2 separate regions of the Homo sapiens genome follow, and region 2 is linked to region 1. Evidence: fine-mapped expression QTL. Tissue or cell type: whole blood. Region 1 holds a variant in brackets; the other region holds the start of a gene. All regions are shown on one strand. Distances are from middle to middle.

Region 1 (5,264 bases):
AAGGCATTAGAATGAACATCTGGAAGAAAGAGTTATCCTGCTTGGAGATGACAAGACTGTGGGAGGACCCATGTTTGAGATGCCTATTTGACATCCATAGGAGATGCTGAGTACGGAGTCTGGAAAATGGGAGAGAGGACTGGGTGGGGGATGTAAGTGCAGGAGTTGTCAGCATATGGATAGTACATAAAGCCAGGAGTTTGGAGACTACTATGGGGGTGAGTTTAGACAAAGGAGAGAAGGGGTCCATGGTTTTCAGCTGAGGGCTCTCCAATATTTACAGGTGAGGAGATGAGGAAGCCAGCCAAGGAGTTGGAGCAGAAGCAGGCACTGCAGTAGGAGGACTAAGAGAGAAGAAACTCCTAGAAGCCAAGGGTCTTTAAGGAAGCATCGAGAGAGGACTGATCGCCTGCATCCAATGCTGCTGATGGAGGATGGAATTGCTCACAATATATGGCACTACTGTGGCCATTAGTGACCTTGATGACAGCAGCTTTGGGGGGCAGTGTGACAGAAGCCTGATTGAAATAAGTTTAAGAGAAAAGAGGAGGATAGGAAGTGGAAACAGCCAGTAGAGACAACTTGTTTGGGAAGTGTTACTGTTCAAGAATCTGATTTAACACTTTAGGTTTTGCAAGAAGAGAAACAGATGAAATGATCTTTCCAGCTACTAAGGCTGATTATTACTACCTTTGCTGGGAGGCTCCTTGACCTATGTGATGGGATACATAGATGCCTGGTTCTGATGAACTCATGATGTGAACCACAGGTTTTTCCCTCTCAGAGACTTATTTTAAGGAGGACGAAGGGGAAAAGACAAGGAGAGAGTAATGAAAGAAAGGGACAAGAAAAATGGTAAGAAAGACTTTTAAAGAGTTTCAAGCCATGTTAAGTTTCCTAAACCATTTCTTTTCCATTGCAAACATCACTAACATAACTCCCAAATTTCCTGGTTAAATTTAGCACAGATGTAAAATTTTGAGCACTGGTGGACATGGGTATCTAAACCAATCATCTGATGAGGAAATTGAAGCTTAGAGAAGGGAATTGACTTCCGGGCACTCCCAATTATTAGCCGCGTGGTCTTAGACAAGTTACTTTTAACCTCAGCGTGTTAGTTAATCCATCTGTAAATTGGCAGTGTAAGAATACCCATCACCAATCTAACGTAATCATGCTTAGATTGTTCGAACAGCAGCTATCACATGGTAATACTCAGTAAGTGTTTTTTATTTATTTTTGAGAGACGGTCTCAATCTGTCGCCCAGGCTGGAGTGCAGTGGATCAATCATGGCTCACTGCAGCCCCAGCCTCCTGAGCTCTGGTGGTCCTCCTGCCTCAACCTCCCAGGTTTCTGGGACTACAGGCATGTAGCAAAATGCCCAGCTAATTTTTTGTATTTTTAGGTGAGACGGTGTTTCACCATGTTGCCCAGGCTGGGTTATTCTTTATTTCTGTTGCCCAAGTCACGTGGAGGAATTGTGTCAGATTGGAGTAAGAAGAGGATGATTCTACCTTATCCCTCCCGCCACAAAACACACACATGCGCTATGAGTTAGCTTTTCATTTCTGACCCTCTAATATCCCTTTTTTGGGGCTCCAATCAAAAAGACTTTTCTTTATTCCATACTATGAATATAAAAAGTACTATAATTGAGGACCTGCTGGGTGCAGTGTTAATTTGCTTTTACATATGTCATCATACTTAATCCTCACACAATCCCTACTATCCCATTTCCCCCCTAAATATCCCATTTGATGGATCAAGAAGCCAGTGTTCAAAGCTTCAATAACTTGCCCAAGGTCACACGGCTGGAGATGGCAGATTCAAACCTGGAGTCTGAGACTCCACATCCTTTCACAAGTCTGCCCAATAATATAACACTAGTACCCAATGCCATGCACTGACTTAGTGACTTGCAAGGAATCTGAGGCGCCAGGGCTCTATGTTAAGTAGTTTTAGAACAAGAAATGCTTCATCCGAAATGTATTTTAAACATTAGACTAGGTAGGTATGCATCCACTTTCTTGGACGTGTTTAAAACTTGGGTGAGGCCGGGCATGGTGGCTCACACCTATAATCCCAGCGCTTTGGGAGGCCAAGGCGGGAGGATCACTTGAGGTTAGGAGCTCGAGGCCTGCCTGGCCAACATGGTGAAACCCCGTCTCTACTACTAAAAATACAAAAATTAGCCAGACTTGGTAGTGGGTGCCTGTAATCCCAGCTACTTGGGAGACTAAGGCAGGAAAATTTCTTGAACCCAGGAGGCGAAGGTTACGGTGAGCCAAGATGGCGCCACTGCACTCCAGTCTGGGTGACAGAGTGAGACTGGTGACAGAGTGAGACTTGTCCGAAAAAAAAAAAAAGAAAGAAAGAAACTTGGGTGAGAAATCCACGTAC[A/G]GTTGAATTTATTCTCACCAGGCAAGGACTGGCCTAGTGTCATGGGGGGTGGGGGACAGTAGGGGAAGGGAACAGGAAGTCATTTGCTGGTGGTTGACCGGGCCCCCTGTGACTTCTCAGAGTTATAGAACTGCCACCAACAGTCACAGCAGTTCCTGGAGAACAACGAGAAACTTGGGGTCAGCCAGAAGGCACCTGTGGTGATATCACGAGGTACAGCGGTGGAAAATACACACTTTCTAAGGGGCTGTTTCCCCACTTTGCTGAACACAGGGTACCAGAGAAACTAATTATAGCCACTGAGGGCAATTGACATTTACAAGCATCCGTGCTGTGTGCAGTGCTTCTCCCTCTACTGATCTGTGGCCAGAGCCACGCCTAATGCATGTGGTGGAGGCCACAGGATCCAGGCAGCCTGGGTGTGACAAGGACATCCTCCTCCCTACCCCTTCTTACTGCCAGGAAATCTCTCACACTACTGCAGGTCTGCTATATTCTGATGTGATTATCTCCTCGGACTGTGGGGTAGCATCACTTCCTCAGGGGCAGAGAGGGAACCTGGCCCTTCCGCTATCGGTTAGTCCAGGAAGTGGTGGTTCTTAGGACAGGCAATGAGGATTTGGAAGGAAGGCCTTAGGTGGGAGAAGAAGAGAGAATCTCCATGTCTCTGGGCCTTGCTTTCTTATGCTAGTACTCCCAGGAGTCTGGCAAAACTTGAGGACTTTTCTGGGGGCGAGAGGACAGGGATCTCTGTCATACAGTGGTAGCTTTGAGGGAACCCCCTGAGAATGGGCTGGTCCTAAGCATAGTCCTGATCCTGAGCTGCTAGTAAAGTCTTGTTCAGTTTGTTACACCTTGGCCTCGGCTGTGCTATGGGAAATTAAGGCATCAATCTGTGTGACTACTTAGACAGGACGGGAGAAGGGGAGATGAGGCTATAATCATCCTGATTCCATCTAACATCTCCAAATTGTGAGGCTAGAAGAGCCATGACCGACAGCTTCTACCGAGAGAAAAGGCAAGGCTTTTGTCTTTCTCTTCCTTCCAGCAAAGCTTTCTGGGGCTCCCCTCTTTAGCCTGGTCTGCTGTTCAAGATTCAGAAAACTGAACTGGACTCCTTAGACAGGAATTTTACAGAACTGGGTGACATTGTGGTTGCATTACCTGCCTTCAGGTGGAGAAAGGACATGTCTGCAACCCAAACCTCCTTACAGAGCGGGGCAGACTGAAAGCTCTGAGCAAGGTCTCCCACAGGCAACCTTGCCTCAGGAGGTGAAAGGACATCCTGATGTCCCAAGTCTCTGGGTGGACAGCGATTCCCCATGCAAGAGGCCACACAAGGGATATTAGAGGGGCAGAGATGAAAAGCTAACTCACGGCATATGTGTGTGTTTTGTGGAGGGAGGATAAGGTAGAATCATCCTCTTCTTACTACAATCTGACACAATTCCTCCATGTGACTTGGGCAATAGAAATAAAAAATAACCCAGCCTGGGCAACATGGCAAAACACCGTCTCTACTAAAAATACAAAAAAATTAGCTGGGCATTGTGCTACATGCCTGTAGTCCCAGCAAGCTGGGAGGTTGAGGCAGAAGGACCACATGAGCTCAGGAGGCTGGGGCCGCAGTGAGTCATGGATTGAGCCACTGCACTCCAGTCTGGGCAACAGAGTGAGACCCTGTCTCAGAGCTCTCCTCTGCAGCTGAGATCCCCCTTCCTCTCGCAGTTCTCACCAGCCCCAGCTTGCTGCTACTACCGTGCAGTTTTTCTGCCCCCACAGAGGGACACTGCATCACGATCAGGAAATTCCACCTCCTCGTCCTCTCTCCACAGTCCCTGCTGCCTCTAATCCAATACTGGAAAGAGAAAGCTGAAACAGGGACAAAGAAAGGAAGCACTTGAATCTCCTCTGTTTCTGGAGCATTTTCAAATGACAGGAAAATGTAATTTTGACTACAATTCAAGGGGTTGAACACCATGACCCTCTAGTCCTTGGCGGAGGAGTGCTGCCTCTGTCAGCAAATAGTGGCAAAGCCAGGGGACCACGGTGGAGGCTGGAGACCTCTCTCTTTGTGGTTACAGAACCTGGCAATGGCTGGGAAGCCATATGTTGTGTTCTGAGACTCAAGCATAAACTTCTGCTGGATGTTTGGATTTTGGTTTTTTAATTATCCCCTGTTTTGAGAGAGACAAAAGGGGTGTGTGTCTATGTGTGCTTTGAAGGAAGTAGGGGAACAGATGGGTGGAGAGAATAGAAAGAGGAGAGGAGCCGTCATTACTGGGCTTTCGGATCCGTGTTTCTCCAGCAGTTTCTGCTGTGTCTCTTTGGTGACACATTGGGTAAATGGCCCTAAAAGATGATAGCTATGCCAAAGCTACAACAGCCTCAGAGGTTCTATTGATTCAGAAGCTTTCTGGATTGTCTCTGCCGTAGCATATGCACCACCTCATTCTTAACAGACACTGACAGCAGCGCTACAACTGTTTTGAAGGAGGCAACTTTTGATGGCAGCAATGCAAGGTCTGTCCAGACCATGAAGTCCCACCTCAACCGCCAATCAATAATAAGACATGACATCTTAAGTGTTATTTAAATGCTAAGCACTGTGTCAGCATTTAACATTTATCTCGGCTGGGCGCAGTGGCTCATGCCTGTAATCCCAGCACTTTGGGAGGCCGAGGCGGGCGGATCACGAGGTCAGGAGATCGAGACCATCCTGGCTAACACGGTGAAACCCCGTCTCTACTAAAAATACAAAAAATTAGCCGGGTGTGGTAGTGGGCGCCTGTAGTCCCAGCTACGCGGGAGGCTGAGGCAGGAGAATGGCGTGAACCCGGGAGGCGGAGCTTGCAGTGAGCCG
Region 2 (5,000 bases), 62 kb after region 1:
TTTCTTCCCTTAATTAAGCAATTTAGGTTTTTAATGCTGGCCTTATTTCAAAAAAGGCAGTAGCCTGAGACTATGCTAATTCTGCAGCATTCCCCAGCTGACTTCCCCACTCCCACCTCCAGCTTTTTTTTTTTTTTTTTCTTGAGATGAAGTCTCGCTCTGTAACCCAGGCTAGAGTGCAGTGGTGCGATCTTGGCTCACTACAACCTCCACCTACTGGGCTCAAGCGATTCTCTTATCTCAGCCTCCCAAGTAGCTGGGATTACAGGCATGCACCACCCCACCCAGCTAATTTTTGTATTTTTAGTAAAGACAGGGTTTCACCATGTTGGCCAGGCTGGTCTCAAACTTCTGATCTCAAGTGATCCGGCTGCCTCAGCCTCCCAAACTGCTGGGGTTACACCCAGCCCCACCTCCAGTTTTTAAGGAGAGCTGTGCACATTGATCATCCACACCGACGACTTCACCTGAAGCGTCCACACCTGACACACCCCTGCAGAACCCACATTTTCTCCCTGTAATTCTGGTATCAGGAACTGGAGCCCTAGTATTAGGAAGTCGTATTGGGACGTCAGTGGAAGGCAGAAACCATCAGTCCATTTTGCAGCCTTCTAAGGCCACTCCAACGTGTCCCAGCAGCCTGGAGAATAACAAATTCAAGGGTCTACTTTGATTAACAGATTACAACCAAGTTAGTAGAGAATAAACAAGGTTTGCCCAGAGATAAGGGAGGGGAGACATAAAGTTATTGCCTGTAATCCCAGCACTTTGGGAGACCGAGGTGGGTGGATCACCTGAGGTCAGGAGTTCGAGACCAGCCTGGCCAACATGGCAGAACCCCATCTCTTCTAAAAATATAAAAATTAGCCCGGTGTGGTGGCGCATGTCTATGGTCCCAGCTACTCAGGAGGCTAAGGTGGGAGAATCGCTTGAACCTGGGAGGCGGAAGTTACAGAGATTGCGCCACTGCACTCTAGCCTGGCGACACAGCGAGACTCCGTCTCAGAAAAATAAATACATAAATAAAGTTATCACCTGAAAAAAAAATGTGAGAAGGGAAAAAAATAAAAAGGACTTTCATTTACTTGGCCCTCACTGATTAAGTTTGGCCAACTCTCCTGTTCAGGTGCTGTAATTCAAAGATGAAAAGAAGCTGCGCCCAGTCCGGACGCCAGGCCTTGTGTCCCCACCTAAGAAATCTGCACGGCAGGGATTAACCAGGGGAGAAGGGCCTGGCCGCTGGGCCTTGGCTTCCTCTTAGGCAGAGTTCCAGCCCCTGAGACTTGAGCCGACCGGCCTGAGACGACTCCGGCCGCCGCCACCCTATGCTGGCAAACAGGCCTCTCCCCAGCAGGCTCCAGGGGCAGCCACCTGCGCTCTCCCTGCCCTCCCCTACCCCACTCTCCTAGAGGAAGGATGAAGAACAGCTCCCCCTCCTTACTCTCAGGCACCCACAGATTTCTGAGCTGCCGTCACCACTGACGAGAACCCAGGTCCCCTGGAGGGATCGCTTCTCCTTCTGATTCCATCCTCCCCATCAATGAACACGCAGGAACACCCACGCTCCCGCTCCTCCTACTCCAGGGGGAGACCGAACCCGAGAGCGACATCCGGAGCTGGAAGCCGCTGCAACGGGGGCGCCGGCCTCCCTGCCCCGCAGTCTCCCGCCCTTTCCCAGACACCGGAGGATCCCAGACCAGCCCAGTATTCCAGACGGAGAGGGTGCCCGAGTCCTCCGCAGGGCCCCGCCTCCCTAGGCGCTCGGCGCTGGAGACCTAGGGGAGCGCGCGAGAGAAACGCTGAGCTCCACCCGGCTGGGGCGGAGGCTGAGCACTATACCCGGGACTCGAACCCCGCGCCCTCGTCCCCCAGCTTTAGGCATCCCACGGCGAGCCCTGGCCCAACGCCCCCGCGCCGCGTCTTCCCCCGCACCCCCGCCCGGAGCCGAGTCCCGGGTTGCCAGCGCGCCCATCCCGCCCCCAACAGGTCTCGGGCAGCGGGGAGCGCGCTGCCTGTCCCGCAGGCGCTGGGAGGCGAGCCGGAGCGAAGCCGAGGGCCGGCCGCGCGCGCGGGAGGGGTCGCCGAGGGCTGCGAGCCCGGCCACTTACGCGCGGGCTCTGGGGAACCCCATGGAGAGGAGCACGTCCAGCGCCGATCCATGCTTGATGGTGCCGGGGCGCTGTTGGCGGTTCCTCCGGGGGGTGACTTTGCTGTACAGCTCCTCTCTCGCAGCCATGCCGAGCGGACTGGGGTGGCCGTACTGAGCCATGGCTCAGCGGCCAGCCATCGCCAGGGAAGGAGCCCGAGCCGGATGGTTCGGGAAGGAGGAGGGAGTCGGGCTGGGCCAGGGGAGGGGGCTCGGGGACCCAGAGCCAGGCAGGAGGCGGCGGCAGCGGAGGCGGCGCTCCGAGCTTCCCCAGTGTCGGGACTCTGACGCTTCCTGGTGAGGCCACAGGAGCCAGAACGCCGGCAAGCGGCCGCTGCGGGACCAGCCTCAGCCACTCGGGCCCCCGGCTGCCCCCAGCTCTGCGCCTGCAGTAGCCCTGTCTCCTCCGCCCCCTTCCCTCTCCTCGCCTAGCAGTCCGGGAATTTGCAATGAGTAATTTTTGAATGGATCAAAAAGGAAAAGGAGCCTTGTGGGCTGGCCCTGACTTGCCTGTACCCGGGCCCCGCCCCTCTCTTAAAGCGGCCGCGCTGTCCGAGGCTGCTCCGTGCGGGCAAGAGCTGTAGTCGCGCTACTTGGAGACGGAGGATCCCAACCTTATGGGCTGCTTGTGTGCTTCACCTCCCGAGAGTCACCCCCGGCGCCCCAGCCCTCTCCTTGGCTGGCATACCCGCCCAGCTGGGCCTCAAGACAGGAGATCAACCCATCTCAAGTTTCATGTGATTCTAGATGCGGTTATTAATGGAAATTGGGTGAACTGGTGGATGATACTAATGGACCAGAAGGCCAAGCCGTAAGGCCTAGGTAAAAGGTTTTGCTTCTCAAAGATCCTGCAAAACCCAAAGGGTTGTTAGGACCATCGGAAGTTGAGTTCCCAATCAGCCGGCCAAGTGGCTGCACTAAAGACCTACTGCGCTCTACAAGGTTATGGTCAGTGACTGAATAGTGCCTTCCCGGTGGGGCAGAGGGGTTGGGGAGAAGGACCTCAGGTTCTCAGAGGTGGCAGGACCTGGGAGGGGACAAGAAAAGAGGGACAGGGCAGAAAGAAGAGGGAAGGGAAAAAGAAAGGAGGAAGGAGGAGGAGAAGAAGGAAGGGCTAGGAGGGTAGAGGAAGAAGGAACAGAGAAAACATACTTCCTAATTATAAGAGGTGTTCAAAAGGGAACGGGCTTATTTCATTAGGGAGTGGATATCCTGTCAATAAAAGGATTCAAAGACGGACCGAATCACCACTGCACAATAATAAGTGAATTGTATCATAGGCTGGACAAAACTACTCCCACTGCAAAGATGGTGGAAGCCACAACCATATTGATGCCCCATGCCCCACCTGGTGAATTTGGCTGGGGGATGCTAACCCTCTTTCGTTTGGAAACAAAGTCATTGTCTTCAGTCAGGGACAAGGGTCCCACTTGCTATAATGAAAGAGGCAATGAGTACACCCTAACTGATAGTCTTTTTTGGGTAATAATAATAATAAAACCTAACATTTATTGGGCTCTTGTATGTGCCAGTCATTGTGCTAATCGTAATGAATGAACTCACTGAAGTTTTATACTGACCCTAGGAGTGTGTTTAATCATTATCCCAGTTTTACAGATGAGAAAACTCAGCTCAGAGAGGTTGGGGAAGATCATAGAGCTGGTAAGTGCGTAGCTACAGCACTCGTATCCACTGCGGTGCCTTAGACAAGTTACTTCTCTCTACAGCCTAATTTCCTCATTGGTATGGACCGTGGTAACCTAACCTTGCACACACTGGGTTTTCCAGAAATGTCAGTCCGGGCCTGTCCCTGGTTGGAATATGGGGGAGGGATGGTGACCAGCACCCATGGAGTGGCTTTTTGAGGTTGCTTTATAAGGCCTGTGAAGGTTTTACCAGGGGAAATGATACAGTGTAACTCCCTGAGCCCGGAATTGGTTTCCTAAAGAATAGCCAGTGGTGTTTGGAAGCAGGGAGATAAGACAGCTGGAGCTTAAGCAACAATGTGTATTAATTCTGCCTCCTGCTGTACAAAGGATGAGGGAAAATTAATGCTTCCTGGGTAGTAGCTGCTTCCAGAGCAAAGGGGATATCCTGGAGACCTTGCAGAATGCTCTTCCAGGACATGGAGCAAAAAGACAAGACTGGGCTGGCAACACCATACCTAGTATTAGCCTCCTTGGATGTGTTCGGTAAAACATGCTGGATTTTATCCAGTATTCTGAATTGTTTCCAAATGCCTGGGCTGAAAGTCAAATGATCTGGATCTTAGTCAAGAGATAATAATGTATGTGAAAGCGCTTTGTAAACCATAAAGCGCTACATAAATGATAACTCAAATTTATTGAGTACTTACTATATGCTGGTGTTGTTCTTTGCTTCTTACATATGTGACTCAAACAATTCCTTGACAAGACTATGAACTAGGAACTACTTTACAAATGAAGGTGCTGAGCCAGAGGTCAAGTATCTTGTCCAAGGTCACATGGCTAGTAAATGGCAGAGCCAAGATTTGAACTCTTAACATTTGGCCAAACAACTAGTTAACGACCATTGTTATGATGATAAAAGGACACCAGCCTTTAAGATAGTTTTTTGACTCCATCTATGCCCCTTGACATAGAATTGCTGGATCTCTGTTTCTCCAGAAAAATTGAATTAATTGTCTTTCTCCCTGCCTTTAGGCAAACTGTAAGATAAAGGAAATGATGCATATAAAAATAGTTTTAGGTAGACTGGAAAAAGCACTATGAAAAACTAGGCACCTGAGATGCAAACTGTTTTTGTCTGGGACACTTTTACAGAAATCCCAGCTTGGCTTCCTCACTTGTCTTCAGCTCAGTGCAAACCCCTG

What was found. PIP is the estimated chance that this variant, and not a neighbour inherited with it, causes the effect.
Region 2: UBASH3B starts here. The variant in region 1 is fine-mapped to the expression of UBASH3B in whole blood (INTERVAL, PIP 0.91).

What each region holds. Positions count from the first base shown.
Region 1 is chr11:122,715,014-122,720,277 of GRCh38, reverse strand. The region is part of intron 1 of UBASH3B (ubiquitin associated and SH3 domain containing B); the gene reads right to left. Among named protein-coding and RNA genes, the nearest start is that of UBASH3B, 62 kb to the right of the region's middle. The variant A/G (reference allele first, on the strand shown) is at 2,402.
Region 2 is chr11:122,653,319-122,658,318 of GRCh38, reverse strand. It overlaps UBASH3B (ubiquitin associated and SH3 domain containing B), which reads right to left and starts at 2,597. Exons shown (of 14, transcript NM_032873.5): 1 at 2,109-2,597. The coding sequence starts at 2,269. RefSeq lists a silencer at 1,938-1,987 and an enhancer at 2,191-2,692.